Linked DNA regions of Homo sapiens: all the other regions are reported to be linked to region 1. The links are microRNA targets in miRTarBase. Many come from high-throughput screens and were not tested one by one. Region 1 holds a microRNA gene; each other region holds the end of a gene's coding sequence.

The links. Region 1 holds the annotated microRNA hsa-miR-7106-3p (AGCUCCCUGAAUCCCUGUCCCAG, at 1,585-1,607, opposite strand). A microRNA usually pairs through its seed, bases 2 to 8, with sites in the 3' UTR of a target mRNA and lowers its output. Matches are read on the target gene's strand: a 7mer-m8 pairs with bases 2 to 8, a 7mer-A1 pairs with bases 2 to 7 and ends in A, and an 8mer does both.
Region 2: the mRNA of SLC39A10 is a reported target of hsa-miR-7106-3p. Seed matches in the 3' UTR shown: 7mer-m8 at 2,529-2,535.
Region 3: miRTarBase lists STRBP as a target of hsa-miR-7106-3p. Seed matches in the 3' UTR shown: 7mer-m8 at 2,166-2,172.

What each region holds. Positions count from the first base shown.
Region 1 is chr12:113,157,529-113,160,880 of GRCh38, forward strand. It overlaps MIR7106 (microRNA 7106), which reads right to left and starts at 1,649; the gene lies at 1,585-1,649. CFAP73 (cilia and flagella associated protein 73) reads left to right here. Exons shown (of 8, transcript NM_001144872.3): 7 at 74-162; 8 at 1,173-1,748. The coding sequence ends at 151. It overlaps DDX54 (DEAD-box helicase 54), which reads right to left. Exons shown (of 20, transcript NM_024072.4): 20 at 1-1,581. The coding sequence ends at 1,349.
Region 2 is chr2:195,734,130-195,737,481 of GRCh38, forward strand. SLC39A10 (solute carrier family 39 member 10) reads left to right here. Exons shown (of 10, transcript NM_020342.3): 10 at 754-3,352. The coding sequence ends at 912. Among named protein-coding and RNA genes, the nearest start is that of SLC39A10, 79 kb to the left of the region's middle.
Region 3 is chr9:123,122,773-123,125,772 of GRCh38, reverse strand. It overlaps STRBP (spermatid perinuclear RNA binding protein), which reads left to right. Exons shown (of 19, transcript NM_018387.5): 19 at 100-3,000. The coding sequence ends at 176. Among named protein-coding and RNA genes, the nearest start is that of MIR600HG, 8.8 kb to the right of the region's middle.

The DNA.
Region 1 (3,352 bases):
CCCGCGTGTTGAGGGGTGGGGGCTGGACAGTGACTCTGGGGCTGGGATGTGACTTCGTGCTGGGCCCCCCCAGGTGAAGCTGTTCATGCAGGACCTCTCTGCCATGCTGGCCGGCCTGGGTCAGGCTGAGCCTGCAGCCCCTGCCTCCTAGCCCTGACACAGGTGAGCAGCGGGAGAGGGAACCCCTGAGAGACCCTGAGATAGGAGGGCCCACATTTCCAATGGGGTGTGGACTGAGTGGCTCTTCCTGAATCCGTTTCCTCATTGGGAAGATGGGAGGGCTGTGCCTGTTCAGAGTGCTGTGGGCCTGCCATGAGGGGCACATAGCAAGCACTCCATAAATGCAGGCCCTGATGAGGAGGTGATGGGAAGGTCAAGGGGCTATGTGTGGGGCAACTGCCTCTAAAATGAGATCAGACCAGGCCCTCCCTGCCAGGGTGGTTGGGGCATGAAAAAAAACTCTTTGTCAGGTCTCAGAACAGGGTCCATGCTAGATGAGAGATCACCAAGGCCCCCTCCACTATGGACTCTGCCAGGTGAGGGGCCCAGCCTGAGAATCCAGCTGCTGGGGCTGCCCTTGACCTTCTCAGAACCTCAAACAGGGGGTGGGTGGCAAGAAGACAGAGGACAGGCCAGGTTCTGACCTCCAGGTGTGGAGGGGCCGCGTTAACCTCTTCATAGCCAGAGGGGAGCAGCTGTGTCCTTGCCCCCTGGGCTGGGCATCCTGTTCCCCTCCCCCAGCCCACTCCCAGCTGCAACCATGTCCAGTGGGAGGAAGGGGGACCAACTCCCGCCTCTGGCACCTGGTTTGTGCTCTGAGCTTCACTTTCCTCATCGCTAAATGGACAAGGCAGCAGAACTCACCCTCAGGAGACCCGCAACTCCTCTGCCACGTTAGCTGGGATTTTAGTACCTGGGTCTCTCCATTCCAGTTCCCCAAGTAGACCGCACTCCTGGCCACCAGCAGTGCTCAATAAAGATTTATTACATTAAAAATTCCATTGCCAAACCCTGAGGCACTCAGGGCTCTGACCGGTGCAGCCATGACCTCTGAACCCAGAACACATGGAAGCAGCAGCAGCTGAGTTGCCAACTCAAGTCTTGGCCTGCCTGGCTTTGCTGGCGAACTCCTGCACACCCTTCAAGGCCCTGTTCAAATGTCTCTGTCTTAGGCTGACGCAGCTGCTGCCCTTCTGTGGCCATACAGTGCTCCTTTTCACAGATGATGGCTCCTGCAGGGAGTGCCCCCAGTGCCCAGCACAGGGCCAGGCACACAGTGGTGCACGGGAACGTCTGCTGATGCCCACCCTAAGGCCAATCAAGGAGCCACGGGGCTGGGTCCTGGTCCTCACATCCTCTTCCGCATCTTGCCCTTCTTGGAGCGGGCACCCCGGCCGAAGGCGCCCTGCTGCAGCTCCTGGACGCGGCGGCGGTTGCGGGCAGAGAGCTGCTTGAGGCCACCACGCTGCAGGAAGTGCAGCTTCTGGGCCCGGCGCCGCTGCTTCAGGATCTGCTGCTTGGTCTTGAGTTCCGGGCGGACTCGGCCTGCAGGGGTGCCTGGGGCGTGGGGCCGGGATGCACCTGCTGGGACAGGGATTCAGGGAGCTCAGCTGTTGGGATCACTCCCAAGATCCCCTCCTCCCAGAAGCTTGCAGACTCCTCCCCTGCCCCTACTCCTGTTCTGTGCTTATTGCTGTGGCCCAGTGTCTGTACACAGTAGGTGGCTAATAAAGTTTTAGGCAGCCTCATGGAGTGGTCAATAACACGGGGCCAGAACCGCTGGGGTTCAAATCCCAGCTGTGACCTCTTGGACCGTGGGCAAGAAGTTAACGGCTCTGTGCCTCAGTTTCCCCATCTATGAATTATAAATCACAGCACCTCCCTCATGGGTGAAGAGTAAATGCATTTCCATGGTGTAAAGTGGTCAGAATTTCAAGGCCTGTCCCATAGTGGGAGCCTTTTGGGCATGACTGTTACTATTAAAAATTCTCCAACCAAGGAGTGTATGTCTCCACAGCACACCTACGGCACGCCAGGCTCTGAGGCCCCCCATAGTAACCGATACAGACCTCAGCCTCTGTCTCCATGGACACCATGCTCTAGGCTTGTTAGATGAAAAAAGAGTGTAGATGAACCTTCCTTTAGGTGGGAGAGGAATCAAAGAAGGCCAGAGAGGGAGAGGGACTTATCTGAGATCACACAGCAAAGCAGCAGCAGCAGCAGAGGTCAGCGACCCTGCCCCAGCCCCACAGGTGGGCATCAGGTAGTCCATTCTTCTAGTTCTCCGGGAGGCAAGCACCACCCTCCCTGGCTCCCACTAAGCCCTGTGTCCTCCTCCTCCTCTTCCCCATTCATAACAGCAGCCTCCCCAGGGCTCCTAGAGGGATGACCATTAAGGTGGTCCCAGCTGTCTCCAATGGAGCCAGGGTGCCTCGCAGGACCTATCACCTCCAATGAGGACAGCAAAGGAAGAACAGCTGCTTTTTCCCAAAGCCCACAGGTCGCCCCCGTCTCCCCAGCCCCTGCACGCCCACTGCACGGCAATGCTCGCAGCAGAAGCTGCTGTTTCACCTAGGTAAAAACAGGCTGAGAAGTGAGGTGTGGGTGGTCCCCACCCAGCCATGCTGACAAGGAGACACTCCCACAGATGGGAGAGCTGGAGAGGGAGGAGCCACAGAGAACAGGCCCAGGCAAATGCACGCAGGCTCACAGAGACACCCAGGGGAGGCAGTGACCAGCCCCAGGAGGTGGAGGGACACAAGCAGGGGCTAAGGCCATCTGAGAGAGACCCAAGACATGGTCCCAAACTCCCCTCTCCCCAGGGAAGACTCCAGGTGGGAGCCTTGGGCAGCTGGGTGACCCAGGTTCAGTCATAGCCCTCATAAGGCACCTGTTTCCTGGCCTGTAAAATGGGTATTCGCAGTCACCTTGCCTCCCAGGTCATGTGTGGCCTTCCAGGACAGAGCCTGCCTGCACCCAGCAAGCGGGAGCCCCTCCCTGATAACAGCCCTTAAGCACAGGCTCTGGCAGACAGAGCCGGCTTCAAATCCACCTTAGCTTGTTACTGGCTGAGGGACCCAGGCCAGATCAAAGAGGTCCAAGTCCTCAGATGACCAAATGTACCACTTGCCAACCCACATTTCAAGGAAGTATCTTCCTCAACATCCCCTGTGATCGCCTCCTCCCAGAACCAAAGCTGCTTCTGACTGCGTCTTTGGTGACATGAACTTCCCCACAGCATTGCTAAAAAGAACGTCACTCCTAAGGATGCCACAGGGAATCAATTCATGCTCACTGTCAGGTCGAACCACATGCAAATGCCATTTTTGCAGGTGAAAATGGCCTGCATTTG
Region 2 (3,352 bases), not on the chromosome of region 1:
CATTTCCCAAAAGAATCTTCCTTTTTTTTTAAAAAAAAAAAAAAAAAAAAAGTTTTTTTGAGATGGAGTTTTGCTCTGTTGCCCAGGCTGGAGTGCAGTGGTGTGATCTCAGCTCACTGCAACCTTTGCCTCCCAGGTTCAAATGATTCTCCTGCCTCAGCCTCCCGAGTAGCTGGGACTACAAGCGTGCCCCACCACGCCCAGCTAATTTTTGTATTTTTATGGGTTTCACCATATTGGCCAGGCTGGTCTTGAACTCCTGACCCCATGATCCGCCCACCTCGGCCTTCCAAAGTGCTGGGATTTATGGGCGTGAGCCACCGTGCCCGGCCCAAGAATCTTGCTTTCTTATTGAGTTTAAGATACATTAGTAAATGTGGGAATTGTGGTGATCGGTTTTTGGAGTGTCTTATTGGTAATAAGTTGCTTTATGCTTTAGCATAAAGTAAAATGTCAGAATTTATAAGGTCAGTGGATAGTAACTGTTTGAAAAATGACTAATGTGCATATTTTAAGTGTTTGTTGTGGGGGATGAGGAGGAGGGAACAGAGTTAGTATTTCCTAGCAAAAGCATAAAATTTCTTCAGTATTTGACTAAAATACATCTGGTGGGTAGCATTGTGTTCAATAAAATAATTATTTTGTCTGTAGTTACACTTCAGTCACTAATTTTCTTAAGTAGGAAAATGTTTTTAAAAACTGTTTTGAGCAGAAGTATTATACAAAGTTTAATGTGAAGATTTATTTTTCTAGCTTCCAGAAATGTTGCATGGTGATGGTGACAATGAAGAACATGGCTTTTGTCCTGTGGGGCAATTCATCCTTCAGAATTTAGGATTGCTCTTTGGATTTGCCATTATGCTGGTGATTGCCCTCTATGAAGATAAAATTGTGTTTGACATCCAGTTTTGACCTTTCCCAGTAATCACTGTTGATTACGAGAATGTTACCATGCAGCTTTGCATCTGTTCCTTGTACTGTATGCACATTGCTCAAAGGAAAGTCAGTGGCTTGCACTACTTACAAGTTTCATAGATTTGAGCCTAACCACAAGAGGCTGGTGCTTAGTACTGTTTTCCCTGCACGTAGGGGTCTTTTAAAAATATAAAGCTTGTGATAAAGAGAGGAGAATATGGGACTCCATGAACCAGTGTTGATATGTTTGATTAAGACTTTTCACAAAATAATCATATAAAACACTAGTCTCTTTATTAGTAGAAACTTCTGTGGCTATGCAGAAATAGAGATCGAACCAAAAAAAATCATTTAAACTTTAAAAATATTTTAAATGGACTTTGGGGAGACATTTTTTGTGTGTTTTAAGAATGAATTGTAGTGCTCTTTAATTCAGCTACATATATTCATGTGGTGATAGGGATCAACTTGACACAACTTTGAAACTGCATAAAGTAGACATAGGAACTAGAGGAAAGCTCAGGCTGCATTAGAGTATGAATTTAGCATTGGGAAAAGCCCTTATTCTTGAATCTAGAGTTACTATTTTTGTATATATTTGCATAGTGTTTAAACCTGCAGCCTAAACTACTGAAATTTGTGATTGTATGTTTGTGTGAGCTTCAGTTTAATGAAAGATTCATAATGGTTCTTTGTATTATTATAATACTTGGTGTTGGGGTGTTCTTTCTGTTTTGTTTTTTACTTTAATTTTGTTTTGATTTTTTTTTTTTTTTTTTGGCGGGGGTAGGTGAGGGTTTGGAGCATGTGGTCTTTTTAAAAAATTGTAACCCTCTAGAAAATATCAAAGAAATGAACCAGACGTGGTTTAAATAGTTGATTTTCCTATTTTAACAGTACCAACTAGTTAATTGGGAAATGTAAGTTCTGAATGTTCACATTGCTTTACCAGTTTGGCACTGGAACCAAGAGCACATGTCGTGGCTGGCTACAAGGTTGTAAAGCAGAAAATCGAAGTTTACCATGTCTGTAATGTGTACATGAAGTGTCAATTTAGAACAGTTACTAGGATAAACTCCATTATTGCCATGGCTGTCATGGTACCCAAGTGACTTGGAAGATGCATTTAAATTACTCAGCTGAAATCACTTGATCATCTTGTGCCAAGATATGCTGTTGGTGCCTGATAGGGATTAGTCTTTTAGGTGCCCTGTTCTCCTACCATAATTGTGAATGATTTGTGAGAAGTGCAAGCCATGTTTATCCTGAATTTTTACTTAATAATTTGTATTACTAGTCATATGCATGTAGCTTTCTGTTTACATCCTATGCCACATGGTCTTCATTTATGCCAGGTAAACTGTATTTGAACTATGTGCAGCTAGCTTTGTTTTAATCTGCTTGGCAACCAGTGTAGCTGCTGTAACAATCTATCTTATTGTTCAAATATATAAGAGCCAAACTCTTTTCCATTCCATCTAAAATGTTTTCATTTAGTACTCTTCTTTCCTCCTACTCTATGAACTTCAAAACAAAAACAAAACTTTGAGAGCAGCACATGCATCCAGGTATTTATAGATTATTGCCAGTGTCTTTTCTGTATGCTATAAGCAAGGGAGCTTAGGTGTTATTTCTTTAATTTATGCTTGAATCTGAAAAATTATTTCTGACTTACTCCATGGCCTCCTTATAATAAGTAGAAGTTTTATATATAATTAATTTTCAGCATTGGGCACTGAATTAGGACAGTCCTCATCTCATTGCTTGGCCCTTCAAGCAACCTAGCTAAAAGGTGCTGATATTTTATTTAGTACTGCCAACTTCAAGTGATTTAGATATCTATCTATCTAGATTTCTGAACCAAGATATATTTATAGTTCACTTTTGGGTTTTTATACCCACGGTAGGATTCTGCATTCCAGCATTAAATCTGCTTCATTTTAGAACCTTTATAAAAGCAATAGCTGGAATATACTCCCAGTTTTAAAATAAATGCCTGATTGATTTAAAGCAAGTAGGTTATGCTGAAGTATATAAAGAAGTTTTATATTCTCTCAAAAATGGTATTATCTTTCTTTATTTGCTAGATTCTTACAAATCTTTTAAGAGGGCTGTAACAGTTGCTGCTAGTATTAGGGTTCCACATCATTCTAATGTATAGTTTCAAGTCTTAATAGACAATCTGAATTCCACTACATTTCTTTTGGCTCCAACATTCCTTTTAGCTTGACCAGTCTAATTTAAAATGTGTTTGTTGGAGGTCATTAACGTTACTTGTACAATGCTGTCACTGTGTGACATCCATATGAATTTTGGTATATATCAATCAATCAATCAATCACATTGCATTCAATCAATCAGCTGTGATTGATTGATTATGCTTAGAAATACTATAGTAACTAGATGCAGTGTGAATTTTTTCCATTAACAAACAAAC
Region 3 (3,000 bases), not on the chromosome of region 1:
AAAGGTTAATGATAATTACTGTCAGATATTTTTTTACCTGAAATTTTTATTGGAGTATTAAAACTTATTTGGAGTCCTCTCCGTTTCTTTTCTCTGTAGGTTTACCCAAGAGAATGGTTCTGTTACCCGTTATGAAATTTCCAACATATCCTGTTCCCCACTACTCATTCTTTTAGCAAATGACAGAAGCTAATTCCTATTGAACAACAATACAGTACAACACAGAATGTTAGAGAAAAAGCCTTTTTATCCTGCTTTCTTTGAACACATACTTGATCAAAATTATTTGTAAAGAACATCTTTCCTACTTTTTGATTTTAACAAATGCAAATTTAGTTCTCTAAAACTTGAAAAAAAAAAAAGAAACCAGTTCTGTGAAAACGGTACCTCATTTCTGGAAAATAACTTATACCAGCCCTTCTGTTCTAGGGAAATAAAAGTCTAGCAGTTCAAAGTTTAAGTTTTAAGAGACGTATCAGATTATGTAAAATTAAATTTGTGAAGGATGTATAGAGTCTCAAACACTGATCACAAATAAACTGCTTTGTTGTAACACAGAGTACTGCCTGGTTCCTGATGCAGTCACTGATTCTTAGTTGATTGATATGTATTTGCCCCAGGGCACTTTAATTTGGGCTGTAGTTATTTTTTTTAATACAATAGAGACTTTTCATTTAACTTTAACTTTGTAAATATTGAAGTGTGTAATAAAGCCAATAAAATATGGGTTTGAATATTGTTTTAGCTTATTATTTTTGATATGTTTTGGTATCAAATTACAAGGAATTGAAAACTAATAACTTAGCCCTAGAAGCCCATTCACTTGTAAGCAAAGTGCTAAAACAAAGCAAAGGTGATTGTTAGTTTGAGCCAGTCTACTCACTTTGTAAGCCCTTTGTACTCCTGTTGTACAAGGGCCATCCCCATGATAAAGGTTCCATTCTGTTATTTGAGCATTGCTTATTAAAATGATGGCACTACCCAGAGATGGGGAAGGAGAATGTGATTATCCTAGTTTATGAATTTCCAAGTTTTTAAAAATAATAAATTAATCAATCAATCACCCTCTCTTGTTCTTGTGGCCTTCTTCACTCTGTAAGATATTGTGTTCACTCCCTGGCTTTTTTCATGCAGATAGAAGATTAGTGATTTTGCTGGGATTCATTGAAGGGTCTCCTTTCCTCTTCAATTACATCAGAATCTAAAGCAGCAACAGGGTCCCCATAAAAACTTGCTCTTCGATTGTCCCAGTTCTTGTTGAGTGCTGCTGTGAAAAGTGACAGGTTTCAGCCATGGGTCAGCATTTCTTTTTAAGACACCTGATGATGCTGGTGGAAATGGATCAGTGGGTAACATTGTGCTGTTCTGTAAAGGGTGCAGACCTAAGTCCTCCACTTGCATTCTCACCTTGTTTGGAAAGCCAATGATGTTACTAGGTCAATGGTTTCATTAAGGTACTCACCCCCATGAAGGAGCAGCAGTGTGGTCCCCTGTCAATATTTATAAGGCACCATGTCTTAAAAATGTCTGTTTTTAGTATGAATTAGCTTTCATTTTCCCTATTCAGTTCTGCTTTTGGGAACTTGACAGGGCCCATCCATGAGAATGGGCTTCACAAAATATGGCAAATGTATGTACCAAATTCCTTCGGGACCACTAAATAAAGGTGAAATGGGCAATGTACAACAAATGTTAGTGTCACTTCTCAGATATATATTACACAATGATTAGTTTGTTTCTTCTCCTTGGTCTTTTGTCTTTATTAGTGGTGGGTGATACTTTAATAAAACCTCATCACTTGCTGGAAATAGCTGTAACTTATCATTCTCATCCTGTGCATTAGTGGCTAGACATAAACAAGAGGGCCCATTTCAGCTGGGAGTTTTCATGTTTCATTGATGCGTTTTGCTGACCTATGGATGAAACAGAGCCATCACTGAGAAGAAAAAGCATGGCTGATAGTGTCCAGTTTTTATTAATTAAATCTTTACAGTAGTCCTCATTGTCTTTGGAATACTATTAATTGGCAGCTGCGGCTGTATTGTTATTTGAAATTGGTCATCAAATTTGGATTCCACGTTGGAATCTCTAGATATTTCTCGTTAGAAAATTCTTTTGAAGTAGCTGACTCTGCTTCATAACTCACGCGCTCTGTAATGGTGAAAAGGGAGCTGTGCTGTTTTCCAACATGATGGCAGTCATTTCAAATGGTTTCTACCAAGTCTTTTTTTTTTTTTTTTAATTTTGTTGTTTGTTGGAAGTTACTAACCATGTTGTAAACCTGCCCAGTTGCTGCAAACTTTTACATTTCTCTGCTTTACTTAAAATAATCGAGCTGTCAGTCCTTTGTTAGAAGTGGTAACCATGCAAGTTCAACTGTTTAAATTCTGTAATGAATTAAGTGTCCCCCCACCTGTTGCCCTTCCCACCCTTCCATTTTGTAATGAAAATTCCACTTACAGCTGAAAGAGCAGAGAAATATAAATGAAGCTCTTGGCTTCACCAAATTGCCTGAGATTAACATGAAGTTTTGCTTCTCTGCTCTTTTCTCCACTGTAGGTGGTTTTTTCATTGACAGCCCCTATTGCCAGCCTCTGAGCGTCGCACCATTTATTATTCACTTGGGCCCTCAAGATTTCTTCTCTGACTTCTAGAACCATCAGGTTGTCTGGCTTGAAATGGCAATTTCTATGTCTTGGTCTTAAGAGCAATGTGACACCCTGAGGCTATCCAGCTTTCAGACACTCCACTCTGACACCCTCTTTTTGAAAGCAATGACTGATCATTTTAAAGAAGAGCAATACTTTGTTCAAAGCCACGGTGTCTGTTTTAAAACTTTTCCTTTGGAAACCTAGCAATATCTGTACTTAACCCCTTTTTAGCATAGTTTCTTGTCAGGGAGTTTACAGGTCAGTGTAGAGCTTAAAATTAGCGTGTGAGCTGTGCTATGTTCTGACAGTTTTTTACACTTTTTAGCACATAAATAGTTACATTCCTGAC